2 separate regions of the Homo sapiens genome follow, and region 1 is linked to region 2. Evidence: fine-mapped expression QTL. Tissue or cell type: lymphoblastoid cells. Region 2 holds a variant in brackets; the other region holds the start of a gene. All regions are shown on one strand. Distances are from middle to middle.

Evidence for each region. PIP is the estimated chance that this variant, and not a neighbour inherited with it, causes the effect.
Region 1: it holds the start of DLAT, and the variant in region 2 is fine-mapped to the expression of DLAT in lymphoblastoid cells (GEUVADIS, PIP 0.94).

The regions. Positions count from the first base shown.
Region 1 is chr11:112,022,056-112,030,161 of GRCh38, reverse strand. It overlaps DLAT (dihydrolipoamide S-acetyltransferase), which reads right to left and starts at 4,754. Exons shown (of 14, transcript NM_001931.5): 1 at 4,411-4,754; 2 at 3,863-3,964; 3 at 1,523-1,647; 4 at 1,217-1,370. The coding sequence starts at 4,689. It overlaps DIXDC1 (DIX domain containing 1), which reads right to left. Exons shown (of 20, transcript NM_001037954.4): 20 at 7,509-8,106. It also overlaps the pseudogene PPIHP1. RefSeq lists enhancers at 4,753-4,952, 5,603-5,792.
Region 2 is chr11:112,113,869-112,121,974 of GRCh38, reverse strand. No RefSeq gene overlaps it. Among named protein-coding and RNA genes, the nearest start is that of SDHD, 31 kb to the right of the region's middle. The variant TG/G (reference allele first, on the strand shown) is at 3,685.

The sequences.
Region 1 (8,106 bases), 92 kb after region 2:
AAAGGATTTCATGATTTAGGGTGGAGATTTTGTTAATGGAGATGGTACTGGAGTCGCCAGTATTTACCAGGAGACATTCGCAGACGAAAATTTTAAACTTAGACACTCAGCTCCAGGCCTGCTTTCCACGGCAAACAGCGGTCCCAGTACAAATGGCTGTCAGTTCTTTATCACCTGCTCTAAGTGTGATTGGCTGGATGGGAAGCATGTAATGTTTGGAAAAATCACTGATGGACTTCTAGTGATGAGAAAGATTCAGAATGTTCCCACAGGCCCCAACAATAAGCCCAAACTACTGTGGTGATCTCAAAGTGCGGGGAGATGTAGTCCAGACCAAGACTGAATTAGGCCTTCCCTTCTTGGTGGTGTTCTTGAGTAAGATAATCTGGACTGGCCCCTGTGTTTGCTTCCCTGCCTGCTGCTGCCCCATTTGATCAAGAGACCCTGGAAGTACTGGAGATTCAGAATCCAAGACTGTGTAAATAAAGTTTTTTTGTATGTGGAAAAAAAAAAAAAGAAATATGATCCCCAATGTTAGAGATGGGGTCTGGTGGCAGGTGTCTGGGTATTGGAGGAGGATCCCTCGTGAATGGCTTGCTGCATGCCCCATGGTAATGAGTTAAGGGGAAATCTGATTGCTATAAAGAGCCTGGTTACCCACTCCCCTCTGTCTCTTGTTCCCTCTCTCATGGGACACACCACCCTTCCCCTTTCCCTTCCAACTTCCACCATGATTGTAAGCTTCCTGTGGCCACAAGAGAAACAGATGCTGGCGCCCTGCTTCTTGTACAGCCTGCAGAACCTTGAGCCAAATGAACCTTTTTTCTTTATAAATTACCCAGCCCTAGGTATTTCTTCATGCCAAAGTAAAACAGACTAACACAGCCTGCTATAAACTCTAATTATACAGGGAATAGATGTTAGTAAAAATCATCCTCAAAATCTGTAATGTAATGTTCTTGAATGAAAAGTGCCACGCATTACCCTGTGTACTACACTGAGGCTGAGAAAGGTTACAGGAACTGTTCAAGTTCTTATAACTGGAAATAACAACCAGGAAGAATAGTTGTCAATCTTCATGTTTAAACCTATATACTCCCAAATGACAAGACCTAACCACATTTAATGTCAGTTTCCAAGATGTAGTAGCCATCTATGAAAAAAAGTGAGTAAGTAAGTAATCACCTAGAGCAAAAACTCAGAGGCTGAGCCTCACCTGCATGTGAGGGGGATATGAGCTACCAGGAGCCTGAGCAGAAGGTGTAGGTGGCGAAGCAGTGGCAGCAGGGGTTGGTGCTGGGGCCGCTTGTGGGGTAGGTGCTGCTGAGGAATCCAGTGTATAATTTTTAAAGGCCTCAATATCCTCAGGCCTAAGGAAGAGAAAGAATGCATAAATATAATGGGCAGATTCAGCTTTCACAAAAGTAGTCTTAAAAAATAGTCTTTAACTCCTAATTCTCAATTCTGGGTAAAATACTCCACCAAGCAATGAAGTTCCACAAATTATGAGCGCACTACTCACTTGCCAACTGTGATACAGATGATCGCTCCGATGGGAACATCCCTGGTACCTTCAGCAACAAGTATCTTTGCCATATAACACTCCTCCAGGCTCTCAAATCCAACAGTGGCTTTATCAGTTTCAACCTTTTAACACAAAAAGCAGTAGCTCAGGTTTGTACTGTTGGTATGTAATTTATTAGCTTGTGTCTAGAATTTTTTTTTTTTTTTTTTTTTTTTTGAGACACAGAGTCTCATTCTGTCACCAAGGCTGGAGTGCAGTGGTGCAATCTCGGCTCATTGCAACCTCCCCCTCCCAGGTTCAAGCGATTATCCTGCCTCAGCCTCCCGAGTAGCTGGGATTACAGGAACAGGCTGCCATGCCCGGCTGATTTTTGTATTTTTAGCAGAGACGGGGTTTCACCATGTTGGCCAGCCTGGCCTTTGTGTCTAGAATTATACAGTTCATGTGAAGATAAGGCCACTACGACAGATTTCAAAGAAGAAATTACTTTAGAAACGCCTTGGTTAAAATCAGTTTGGCCAGCTGCTGACAACTTATCCAACCAATCTTGTCTAACATCAAGTTGTGAAAAACACTTCAGTTTCTTAAACAAAGGGGTAGCTACACATCCAGAAAGTCAATGTTCAGTCAATTAGGCAAAGCCAGTCTCTTCGAACTCATCTCCGTTACTTTAAAACAACTTACCCTCTCCCTCTCCCTCTCCGTCTCCCTCTCCCTCTCCCCACGGTCTCCCTCTCCCTCTCTTTCCACGGTCTCCCTCTGATGCTGAGCCGAAGCTGGACTGTACTGCTGCCTTCTCGGCTCACTGCAACCTCCCTGCCTGATTCTCCTGCCTCAGCCTGCTGAGTGCCTGCGATTGCAGGCACGCGCCGCCACGCCTGACTGGTTTTCGTATTTTTTTGGTGGAGACGGGGTTTCGCTGTGTTGGCCGGGCTGGTCTCCAGCTCCTAACCGCGAGTGATCCGCCAGCCTTGGCCTCCCGAGGTGCCGGGATTGCAGACGGAGTCTGGTTCACTCAGTGCTCAATGGTGCCCAGGCTGGAGTGCAGTGGCGTGATCTCGGCTCGCTACAACCTCCACCTCCCAGCCGCCTGCCTTGGCCTCCCAAAGTGCCGAGATTGCAGCCTCTGCCCGGCTGCCACCCCGTCTGGGAAGTGAGGAGCGTCTCTGCCTGGCCGCCCATCGTCTGGGACGTGAGGAGCCCCACTGCCTGGCTGCCCAGTCTGGAAAGTGAGGAGCGTCTCTGCCCGGCTGCCATCCCATCTAGGAAGTGAGGAGCGCCTCTGCCCGGCCGCCCATCGTCTGAGATGTGGGGAGCGCCTCTGCCCCGCCGCCCCGTCTGGGATGTGAGGAGCGCCTCTACCCGGCCGCGACCCCGTCCGGGAGGTGAGGAGCGTCTCTTCCCGGCCGCCCCGTCTGAGAAGTGAAGAGACCCTCCGCCTGGCAACCGCCCCGTCTGAGAAGTGAGGAGCCCCTCCGCCCGGCAGCCACCCCGTCTGAGAAGTGAGGAGCCCCTCCGCCCGGCAGCCACCCCGTCTGGGAAGTGAGGAGCGTCTCCGCCCGGCAGCCACCCCGTCCGGGAGGGAGGTGGGGGTCAGCCCCCGCCAGGCCAGCCGCCCCGTCTGGGAGGGAGGTGGTGGGGCCAGCCCCCCGCCCAGCCAGCCGCCCCGTCCGGGAGGGAAGTGGGGGGGTCAGCCCCCGCCTGGCCAGCTGCCCCGCCCGGGAGGTGAGGGGCGCCTCTGCCCAGCCGCCCCTACTGGGAAGTGAGGAGCCCCTCTGCCCGGCCACCACCCTGTCTGGGAGGTGTACCCAACAGCTCATTGAGAACGGGCCATGATGACAATGGCGGTTTTGTGGAATAGAAAGGGGGGAAAGGTGGGGAAAAGATTGAGAAATCGGATGGTTGCCGTGTCTGTGTAGAAAGAGGTAGACATGGGAGACTTTTCATTTTGCTCGGTACTAAGAAAAATTCTTATCCTGTTGATCTGTGACCTTACCCCCAACCCTGTGCTCTCTGAAACATGTGCTGTGTCCACTCAGGGTTAAATGGATTAAGGGCAGTGCAAGATGTGCTTTGTTAAACAGATGCTTGAAGGCAGCATGCTCCTTAAGAGTCATCACCACTCCCTAATCTCAAGTACCCAGGGACACAAACACTGCGGAAGGCCGCAGGATCCTCTGCCTAGGAAAACCAGAGACCTTTGTTCACTTGTTTATCTGCTGACCTTCCCTCCACTATTGTCCTATGACCCTGCCAAATCCCCCTCTGCGAGAAACACCCAAGAATGATCAATAAAAAAAATAAATAAATTAATTAAAAAAAAAAAAAAAAACTTACCTCTGCAATTAGGTCACCTTCATTGATTTTGTCCCCCTCTTTTTTTTCCCAACGGGCTATGGTGCCTGCCTGCATTGTGGGGGAAAGAGAAGGCAATGGAACCTGGAAAAGGAAAAGAAGAAACATTAAAATTTTTAAGGACTACCTAACTCTCAGTCTGGCTTAAGATTTCATTCAATTCAATTTCATGCAAAGTGTATACAGTTCCATTGCACATTGGGAACTAGGGATGCCAAGGGAGTTCCTGTCCATGAGAAGTTAGTAATTTCCAGTGACAGGCTTTCTCCTCCACAGTCCTGTGGGTCTGACAAAGCATGAACCTCGGCAGATATTCTGCATACAGCCCCAGTCTTGAAGCTCTCCTTTCAATGAAATAGATCATGAGAGGGACACTAAGGAGCTACAGCAAAGCCAACTATTGGACAAAGGGCCAAAGCAGATACTGGGAATGGGTGGAGGATCAGTGAGGCCTCTCAAGGAGGATCTTGCAGGCATCCAGTCAGCTCTGAAGGACAACGGGGTCCCGAGAAGGGGGGTCTAGGGCTCACCTTCTGATGCGGGGGAAGACTGTAATAGCGGCGGCCGGGCGACCCCAAAAGCTGCAGCAGTAAGCGGTTCCGCGGCGTGGCCCCAGAACTGGGGGTCCAGCCGCACAGTGCCCGGACCCCGCCATACCCTGTAGTCACGCTGTTGCGACGAGCGGGAGCCGGGCCAGATCGCGAGGTCACTCGTGGAGTTCCGGGTACCTCCTGCAAGGCCGTCCACCGAGCCTCGAGTCCCGCCCATGGGGCTACATTCTGAGCCCGTCGCGCACAGACGCGCCACATAGTGCCACCAACCCCCCACACCCCAAAACCAACGCCGTCTCCGGAGTGACCTCTCCAAGAGCAGCGGCGTTGCCGTCAGCCACACCGCACAGCCGCACGTTGTCGTAAAATGGTTCCCGCAGGTTTACTCCACCCGCTCCCCAGGCCAGAAATGCGCGGCACGCACGCTCTTTCTCTACGGAGCGGGGACGAGGGGCACTACGGGGCAGGAGTGTTCCAGAGGGGCCTGTGCGGGCGCAAGTTTGGGAGAAATAACAGACGGAAAGGGGTGGAAAGTGGTAGGGTTCTAGGGGAGGCATCCGAAAGGGTGAGACGGGGCCTAAGAGATGACAAGGGCACGACCGAGGGGGAGGGGCCTAAAAAGGCGCAGAGACGCGGGTTAATTGCGGCCGAGTGGCCTGAGAGTCTGGGCCGAGGGGCGTGGCCAAGCTTTCTGGAAAAGCTGGAAGTGAGCCCGGGAACTGGCTAGGGCAGTGGGAGCCTCAGGCCAAAGGGCGGGGGTCTTGGAGTGCTGGGGTGGTGAAGGAGCCAGGAATCGCCCGCGAGGGAATCGAGGGGTCCGGCGTGGTGACCTCTGCTTCTGCGCATCCGAAGGGGGATGGACTGGGCCGCGCCCCGCGCAGGCTGTACTGGTTGCAAAGATTTCGTTTCAGGTTTGTAGCCCAAGTGGAAAGTGGAGTGAACAGGTGTTCCACCCAGCCAAGTGGTAACGAAAGGCAGCCCAGAGGAAGATACATTCCCGCATTCATGTATACTGTAGCAAGATTAAGCATATTCCCTGTATGAAGATATAGGTTTACAAAACAGGTGTTGCTCCCTAATACCATAGAATTCTTTTAAGTAACCAAAAGCTTCGTTATGTTTCAAATGTTTGAAAAACTTAACTGTAAGCCGTTGAAGGCATGAAGAGTGTCTGCGTGGTCCTTCCATGTAGCCCCAGAGCTTAATATCCAGTAAATAGCGGGGGCTGAATGTATGTCTTTTGAATCAATGAATAAAAAGTCATCTACACATTTTGTTAGGCACGCTTCTCTTGTAAAGTTGTCTTTTAATTAGAAAACATATCGTTTCTGAACTGAAGGTGACATTAGATAAGGAGGAAGCATGTGCTGTGTATCACCACCTCCCCCCTGTAGAGATGGTTAGAGAACACCAAGAACGCAAGAGGAAGTTGGAGGGAAGAAACTTAAAACAAGATTTTAGCCAGGAGCGGTGGTGCATGCCTGTAGTCCCAGCAATGCTTGAGAGGCTGAGGTGGGGGAATCACTTGAGCCCAAGAGTTTGAGACCAGCCTGGGCAACATAATGAGACTCCCATCTGTTAAAAAAAAAAAAAAATGGGGGCTAATCTTGCTAACAATTAATTTGGAAAACTAAAACAGATTGGATGTACTATTTCATGCCTACTTAAATTGGAATGTTTAAGCAGGTACAGCTGTCTATCAGAATAATATGTAAGCAATATAATTGAGAAATATAAAATTTCTAGATTGAATGAAAAGGCATATTTTAAATAATATGAAGAGAGCAATTATATTGTTACAATTATGTACAACTTATGAATTAACAATTGGAAGAAGCAATGAAAGAATAATTGTAATTACTGAAAGGACTTATTACTATTATTTGGGGATGGAGTCTCACTCTGTCGCCCAGGCTGGAGTGCAGTGGCATGATCCCGGCTCACTGCAACCTCCACCTCCCAGGTTCAAGCGATTCTCCTGCCTCAGCCTCCCGAGTGCTGGGATTACAGGCACGTGCCACCATGCCCAGCTAATTTTGTGTTTTTAGTAGATACGGGGTTTCACCATGTTAGTCATGCTGGTCTCAAACTCCTGACTTCAGGTGATCCACCTGCCTCGGCCTCCCAAAGTGCTGAGATTACAGGCGCGAGCCACCATGCCCGCCCAGGACTTATAAATTATTATAAAAATGTTTTTGAGTTGGCTAAAATATCTTGCTGCTTTTGCTGCATTTGAACTTAATAACTGGATCTAAATTAGACTTTGGTATAAAGTATGAGGTGATCTTCCGGATCTGTTGTGCACTTAGGTATGCTTGCTTAAACCCTGTTTTGCATTTTTCAAAGAATAGCGAGTTTGTGTCTTGAATATACTTTTGACTTAAGTGTAGTTAAATTATAGGAATGCATAGCTCAAACAGTCCAGAGATGGCGAGCTTACCCCAGAGGTGGGCTAGGAATGCTTAGGTTTCTCAAATCAGTCCTGAGAGAACAAGCTTGAATTCCACTAAACAGACTGGATAAAGGAAATTATGGAAAAGGAGACTCAAGACTCAAAGGTTTGAAATAGAGATACTTAAGAGAATGGTGATATCACTGATATTGAGAGAAACAGAAATTAGTTGGTAGTGAAAGATTTTGAGTTATGTACATATTTAATTTTAACATAATGGGATAGCCAATTAATAGTTGAAAATACGTAATTGGAAGTCAAATGAAGGCACTCAGGGATAAAGAATTTAATATAGCAAACATTTAAGATGAATTGATAAGAGGCATTTAAGAGGCAGCTTTCAAATGATCTGGGAATTCTGGTCATTTTAAATACACATTTCTGAAAGAGTTCTTAATGCTTGCATACTGACTTTTGTCATAGAGTTTATACTCTTGGGTTCTTATTTGTTTGCATGTTTACATATAATTTCAAAATAAGTGCTAAATAAATTGTCCTTGATAATAGCCTATGTGCTTACATAGAAATACTAATTGTAAAATATCTGTAGCAATAAAGTAATTCTTATCTCCACTCCACATAGTGAGTAAACATGCTACCAGGGAGATCACTTGAGGAAATTTGCTTTCACTAAATGTAAATGGCTTTATTGATTAATCTCATCAGTAAACGCAAGTGAAAATCATTAATGATATTTAGTTTGCAAACCCCATTTTATTCATAGTTTGTGGTTTTTTAAATTAGTTCACAAATCTGGTACATACCGGCAGTTAAAACTGGTTATCACTTTGATAATCAGAAGCCTCTGGTGTAACATAGTCTTCATGAAAACATATTGTAAAACAGGGAGAATACACAGTAATAATCTCTTTGAAAGCAATGGCTGTAAACATCCATGTTTCTAAGAAAATATAACTTTACATATATATGTATTTTAAGCAAGCTATACCTCTTACATAAATTCAGACAGTAGAAGGAGTGTGCAATCATAATGCTTATTTTATGGAAACAGTGAAAATAATTTTAATTATGACCTAAATGCTTTTAAGTAATTAAAGTCCTCTTGAATTGGATGTATAGTATAAAGATATTTTCCCTAATTTGCAACCATCCTGGTCAAAAAGAGCTGAAAAGTTGGTCAGTAAGTAGAAGTGCCATTACCAAGTAAGTTTAAAACAAATTCTTCAAATTTAAAAATGTAAAAATTGTAAAGTATCCCAATC
Region 2 (8,106 bases):
AGTGCAGGGGCCGTCAAGCTGGTTTCATCTCCAGCCATTGTGGTAATTTTATGGCAGGAAACTGGAACTCCTGGCCTTATCTGCCCCCAAGTCTAGAACTGGACCGTGCAGTTTCCTTCCAATGAAGGTGCCCTAACCTTGACGCTGAGAGTGGTAAGAGATTGGACTCTTAGAGCTTGTCCTTTCGAGAGGTTCTTGAGTCCTTTATACAAAATTTTGACCTCTTCTTTAAAGCTATGGACATTGAAGAAATTGGAAGGAAGGGAGGTACAGTTATATTCTTTCCCTAGGGCATTATAGGAAAAAAGTCACAATTCCATAGCAAAAAAAGCCAATTGAGTGATTTCCTTGAGTAATTTTTACTGTAAGTGATTTGCTGCCTCTGCTTAAAAGTCAAGAAGTAGCATCTTCTTTAAGTTCTGCCTCACCAGGCTTCCAGCTACACTTAAAATTAATTAGCTAAGAATGTAGGAAATCATCTTTCTGTGTTCTCAATGCCCAAAGTCAGCCTTGAAAGTAAAGTGTACTTCTCCTTTGCAATGACGAAAAGGAGGTATGTTTTAGAAATAGACTTTGACTAACTAGTCCTACTGACATTCTAAAGCAATCAAAATCACAATGCCCTTTTGTTTGTTTGTTTGCTTTTTGAGAGGACAGGACTGCTTCATTCCAAAACACCCATAAATTAAAATTAATTTCAAAACACCTCCAAAATAGAATAGTTTTTGCCATAGTTCTGAGTCATTTTTTAACATCTTTCTTCTTAATTGGATATTATATCCCTAATAATTCATACCTTTTTGTTTTCTGGTTTTTTTTGGGGGGGGGGTTGGTTTGGTTTGGTTTTTGGTTTTTGAGACGGAGTCTCGCTCTGTCGCCCAGGCTGGAGGGCAGTGGCGAGATCTCGGCTCACTGCAAGCTCCGCCTCCTGTGTTCATGCCATTCTCCTGCCTCAGCCTCCCTAGTAGCTGGGACTACAGGCGCATGCCATCACGCCCGGCTAATTTTTTTTTTTTTTGTATTTTTATTAGAGACGGGGTTTCACCGTGGTCTCAATCTCCTGACCTCATGATCCGCCCACCTCGGCCTCCCAAAGTGCTGGGATTACAAGCGTGAGCCACCGCGCCCTGCCAATTCATACCTTTTAAAGCATATAGAAGAGTTTGAAACAAAGTGGATTAACTACCGTGATTTTTTAAACTACAGCTATTACTACAGTACTGCCAGAGTACAATTGATTTAGCTCATCGTTGCAACTGCCCAACTGAGCAATAGGAGTGGGTTTTTCCACCCAATTTTGTGGGAAACGACCTGAAGAGAAAGTTATATTGATGTTAAGCAGCTCCACTATCCGCGTGACTAATCTTGGTTCATAAGTTTCATTGGGCCTATGACTCACTTCTCTATTTTAGATATTTATTGCCCAGGAAATAACACTGATACCATTAGAACCCGTTTCCAGTTTGAACGATGCCAAAATTACAAGTCAGCACAGGAAAAAGCTCAGCTCCTATGTGTTAATTACAACATCAATGCAAGCAAAAAAGAAAAAAGTTTGAGCTTTTGCAATCCTTCATTTATCCAGCATTTGTGACCAATGGGATGTTCTATATGTTGAGAAGGAGAAAGAGGACAGTCGACGGACCAGACCAGACTGCCCTGCTTGTCTGAGCCTTGGTGTGATCGCCAGGGGGGAATGCATATGGGGTTCAAGTTTAAGGGTCACAACCTTACATTTGTCCAGTTACCCGTATTAAAGATTAAGTGCTAGCCATGCTCTTAAGACATAGGACATAAGCCAAAATATAAATGTATTCATTTTTTATGCACACACACACACACACACACACACACAATAAAACTGTCAAATGAACAAAATTCCAGTGTCCATTAGTCAATATCCTGACTTCCCAGTTTTTTAAAAAAAGTCTCTTTAGAAACCAAGCCATTATCAGAAGTTTGCTTTGAACACATTTTATTGGCTTATGTGCCTGTCCATCAAGTCTGTGAGCTTCTGGTGTCTTTTTTTTTTTTTTTTTTTTTGAGACAGAGTCTTGCTCTGTCGCCCAAGCACGATCTTGGCTCACTGCAACCTCCACTCCCCCAGGTTCAAGCGATTCTCCTGCCTCAGCCTCCCAAGTAGCTGGGACTACAGGCATGCACCACTACGCCCGGCTAGTTTTTGTATTTTTAGTAGAGATGGAGTTTCACCATCAGCCTGTTGGCCAGGCTGGTCGCGAACTCCTGACCTCAAGTGATCCACTCACCTTGGCCTCCCAAAGTACTGGGATTACAGGCGTGAGCCACCACGCCCAGCCTCCTGGTATCTTTTTCATCTCTGTATCCCCAGGACCCAGCACAGTGCCTGGTACATAGTAGATACTTAAATATTTTTTAATATATGAGTGAGTGAATAATAAGATGTATATGAACCCATCTGCAAATTTTAAGGTGGTGTCATTAAGCTATGACAGATGAATGTACCCATCTTCACAGCAGGAGCAGTGGACTTATGAAAGCAAACACAGGAAACAGGGGAAGATGCACATGTATTAAGTCACGATTAACAGCTGGGCGCGGTGGCTCAGGCTTGTAATCCCAGCACTTTGGGAGGCTGAGGCAGGTGGATCACTTAAGCCCAGGAGTTGGGTAATGGCCGACACAGCATGGTGAAAGCCCATCTCTACAAAAAAAAAAAAAAAAAAAATTAGACGGGCATGGTGGTGTACACCTGTAGTCTCGTTACTTGGGAAGCTGAGGTGGGAGGATGGCTTGAGCCCCGGAGGTCGAGGCTGCAGTGAGCTGTGATTGTGCCACTGCATTCCAGCCTGGGCAACAGAGCAAGACCCTGTCTCAAAAGAAAAAAAAATAATTAATTTTTTTAAAATTATGTAAAAGCAAGATTAATGTTGTAATGCCAATTAATGTTTTTAGATGACATTGTGAGAGACATAAAGTACAGAAAATAAGGCTTTCAACGCATTTTAGACAACCAAAGTACATTGACGTGAAGAGGGAGAAGAAAGGAACCCTCAAAACTAAAACTTCCTACTTGTGCCACTGTGTCCACCAACTCAGAAACGTGGGCTTCTGTACCTCATGGAAAATGGCAATGTCTCCTCTCCATGGGAGGTTCTTTTAAATTTTATTTGCATTCATATTACCTTTGAGGGTGGGAATGAGGAAAAACAAAAATATGGGTTAGTCTATGAGTGAAATTTTTCCAGAGAATATTGTCAGGATCATATTACCTTGGAAAAAGATACAATAGAGGCCCATATTGATCGTGTTTAGGTGAGATGCTGAGTGTGTTTCGGTTAAAATGTACATTGAGTTGAAGATACCCTATAGTGGTTAGACCCTGACCTGGCCAGAAGAATATTTTAATCTACTAAACTTATTAGATAAAACAAAGAAGCTAAATTAAAAAGTATTGAATTCTCCAAGATTCTAAGTCACAGGAAGTAATAAACCCATACCAAATAAGCCCCTAATTCTGCAGTAGTAGCTTTGAGGGAGAGAAACCAGCTTCGAGGGAGATGAAACCAGTTTGGGGGAAAGGGAGGAGGTGCCCTGGCCACAAATTTAGCAGGGCCACCAACATAGCTGAGTCATGGCTCAGGAGGCACCTTTAATACTATGTCAACCATCTGTCACATCCATCTTTCTTTTTTTTTTTTTTTT[TG/G]AGATGGAGTCTCTCTCTGTTGCCCAGGCTGGAGTGCACTGGTGTGATCTCAGCTCACTGCAACCTCCGCCTCCCAGGTTCAAGCAGTTCTCCTACTTCAGCTTCCCAAGTAACTGGGATTACAGGTGCCCACCACCACACCTGGCTAATTTTTTTTGTACTTTTAGTAGAAATAAGGTTTCACCATGGTGGCCAGGCTGGCTTCAAACTCCTGACCTCAAGTGATCTGCCCATCTTGGCATCCCAAAGTGCTAGGATTACAGGCATGAGCCACCACACCTGGCCCACATCCATCTTTTTAGGAAAGAATATTCAGATTAGAAACAGGAAAACTGGTGGACAACAGAAAGTGCCACTCCTTTATTCCTGACGTCTAAGATATGAATTGAACTTCCTTTTAAGTGTATGGTATTTTAAAATATTTGTGTTGATTAAAAAAAAAATGTATATATATATAAAGGTCGGGTGTGGTGGCTCACGCCTGTAATCCCAGCACTTTGGGAGGCCGAGGTGGGTGGATCACCTGAGGTCAACAGATTGAGACCATCCTGGCCAACATGGTGAAACCCCGTCTCTACTAAAAATACAAAAATTAGCTGGGTGTGGTGGCTTGTGCCTGTAATCCCAGCTACTCAGGAGGCTGAGGCAGGAGAATCACTTGAACCCAGGAGGCAGAGGTTGCAGTGAACCAAGATTGCGCCACTGCACTCCAGCCTGGCAACAGAAAGACTCCGTCTCAAAAAAACAAAAACAAAAACAAAAAAAACAGATAGTGAGATGGTTTGGCTCTGTGTCCCCACCCAAATCTCATCTTGTAGCTCCCACAATTCCTGTGCGTTGTGGGAAGGGCCCAGCGGCAGACGATTGAATTATGGGGGCAGGTCTTTCCCCTGCTGTTCTCATGATAGTGAATGGGTCTCATGAGATCTGACGCTTTAAAAAATGAGAGTTGCCCTGCACAAGCTCTTTTTGCCTGCTGCCATCCATGTGAGATGTGACTTGCCCCTCCTTGCCTTCCACTGTGATTATGAGGCCTCCCCAGCTATGTGGAGCTATAAGTCCAATAAGCCTCTTTCTTTTGTAAATTGTCCAGTCTCGGGTATGTCTTTATCAGCAGTGTGAAAATGGACTAATACAGATGGCAGTTCTGACATACACTACAATGTGATGAACCTTGGGATATTATGCTAAGTGAAAGAAGCCAGTCTAAAAAAGACAAATACTGTATGATCCCACTTATATAAGGCTTGGAATAGTCAAATGGATAAAAACATAAAGTAGAATGGTGGTTGCCAGAGACCAGAAGGAGGAGGAAATGGGGAGTTTAATGGGTACAGCATTTCAGTTTTGCAAGGTGAAAAGAGTCCTGGAGCTGGATGGTGGTAATGGTCATATGGCATTATGAATGTATTTAATACCATTGCATTGTACACTTGAAAATGGCTAAGATGGTAAATTTTATGTTATTTATATTTTAACACAATAAGATTGGAAAAACAACTTTTATTATAAAAAGTTTAAAACTTGCACAAATACTCATCATCCAGCTTCAACAATTATCGACATTTTGCTTATCTCATTTCTTCTATTTCTCCACTCCCCCCTTATTTCCCTTATAGATTTTTAGGTGTTTTTTTTTTACTTGCATGGTCTAATTATGATCATGTCATCCAAAAATCCTGCTGTATTGTTATTTTTTCCCTATATTTGTTCCTCATTTTTTTAAGAATCCAATGATTCTATGGTTAGTATCTCTGTTAAACAGAAATGAGGGAGGACAGGAAACATTCTTGCTTTATCTTAGGCTTTTTTTCCTTTTTTTGTTTTGAGACAGAGTCTCACTCTATTGGTTAGGCTGGATTGCAGTGGCACAAATCTCGGCTCACTGCAACCTCCACCTCCTGGGTTCAAGTGTTTCTCCTGCCTCAGCCTTATGAGTAGCTAGGACTGCAGATGTGCACCATCACGCCTTGATAGTTTTTGTATTTTTAGTAGAGACAGGGTTTCACCGTGTTGGCCAGGCTGGTCTCGAACTCCTGGCCTCAAGTGATCCACCCACCTCGGCCTCCCAAAGTGCTGGGATTACAGGTGTGAGCCACCGTGCCTGGCCTATTTTATCTTAGTTTCGATGAGCTTATCTTTGCTATTTAACAAATGCTGGCTCTTTGTTCTATGCATGTGCTCCTTTTAAGTTCAGACAAACAGGAACATTCAGCAAAGTTTTTCACTCAGTACTGGTGCGGGCATCAGGAGATATACATGTTGACACATATCTATTTCTGTTGGCTTTCTGGAAATCAACTGCATGACATAACCAGGACTTTTTAAAGGCTCATGATGATTTACCTAGAAATTCCTATTCAAGACTCTATCTTAAGGAAATAATCAGAGATGCAGTCAAAGATTGATGTATATCATTTTGAATAGCAATGGAGTACTCATGTTATATTTTTGACCACCCAGAGGCCATCCCCAGCCCCTTTCTCCCTTGTTAATGCAGAGACTGAGAACAGCAGACACTCGTTTCCCTAAGCCTTTACAGCAAGAGGTGGCCAAATGTGCCAGCTCTGATCAATGAACTCTAAAAAGAAGTCTGCAGGGAATGATGAAAAAGATGTTCTGACGACCAAGGCTTTTACTGCCCTACCTGCAACCCTGCTTCCTGCCTTTGAATCAATCAAAGGAGAATGTGGTACTTGAAGCCATTCCAGCTGTACTGTGACCACAAATTGACGAGCCTAAAAGTGACAGGCCAACATGCTGAGGATGAGAACAGAGAGGCAGAAAGAACTTTAGTCTGAGATGACATCCTTAACCGCTGCATCAAAACTGGACCTGCCTACCCAGACATCTTTTTCTATGAGCGATTCTGTGGTAGTACTCTTTTAATGGGAGATAGTGGGTGTGTATTCTTCTGCTTGCAGCCAAAAGGAAACCTACCTTATATGTATGAATATCCTACAATTTATTTAATTGGTCCTCTAGTTACACATTTAGCTTGATTCGATTTTCTTTTCTATCAGAAGTAACAATGTTGATGAATGTTTTTGAATATGCATCTTTGTCTTTTCGTGAGCATTTTTTTTGGTCTTTGTCTTTATCCTCTGCATCTGAGAAATTTATTTATTTATTATTTTTATTTATTTATTTATTTTGAGACGGAGTTTCACTCTGTTGCCCAGGGTGGAGTGCAATGGTGCGATCTCCACTCACTGCAAACTCCACCTCCTGGATTCAAGCGATTCTCCTGACCCAGCCTCCCAAGTAGCTGGGATTACATGTGCCCACTACCACACCCAGCTAATTTTTTGTATTTTTATTAGAGACGGGGGTTTCACCATGTTGGCCAGGCTGGTCTTGAACTCCTGACCTCGGGTGATCCGCCTGCCTCGGCCTTCCAAAATGCGGGAATTACAGGCATGAGCCACCGTGCCTGGCCTGAGAAATTTATTTACATTTGTCTTCCTTTGCTAATTTTAATTTGACAGAATTAATTTTGCTTTTTTACTCCTTATCCTGTGTTTTTCATTTCCTTTCAACCCTTCCTTTTCTTTTTCCTCTTTCATCACACCTAGTTTATCTTCCATCTTAGCCTACCTTCATCTTCTTCTGTTACAGAGCTCATGACTCACTCACTTCCACTTAAGATACCCAACAATTTCCTAGAACTTTTTCCTGGCTTCCGCAAAAAATCATTTGGACCTATGCAAAACTTCTGAACCTCTATTATACTTTTTTCTTTCACTTGTTTTATAGTTTTGTTTTGTTTTTTTAATAGGTCCCATGCTGATTTTTTTTTCTCCGTGCTCAATTTTGAACAGGGTGATAGCTATTCAGATTCAGTGTTTGTTACCAAGCAGAGTGAGTGAGGATTTCCTTTGGTTCTGCTTTCTGTCTGATAGCTGGATGGTTGAATCCTCCTTTAAAATCTGTACCTGCAGCCTTGGCAACATAGCAAGATCTACCTCTACAAAAAATACAGAAATTAGCCCAGCGTGGTGGTGTGCACCTGTAGCCCTAGCTACTTGGGAGGCTGAGCCAAGAGGATCACGGGCGCCCAGGAGTTCAAGGTTACAGTGAGCCATGATTGTGCCACTGCACTCCAGCCCAGGTGACAGAGCAAGAACCTGTGTCAATCAATCAGTCAAAACAAATAAAGTCTCTATCTGGAGGGCAGGTCATGTGCATGTGTCCCAGCCTCATTCCCAGTTTCTAGCCATTTTTCACTTGGTGTACTTCGGCTCTGCTGAAGCTGCATCTCCCTTTTGCTTCTATTTCCTGGTTTTCTGTTAGTCTCAGCTAATCTACTACATGAGGAATTGTGATTTTTTAAAAATGGAGCCCTAGTAAGATTTTCCTTGTTCTCTCCCCTAACTCTAAATCACACCAGGGTTACACTTGAATTCTGGTTAGTTTCCCCA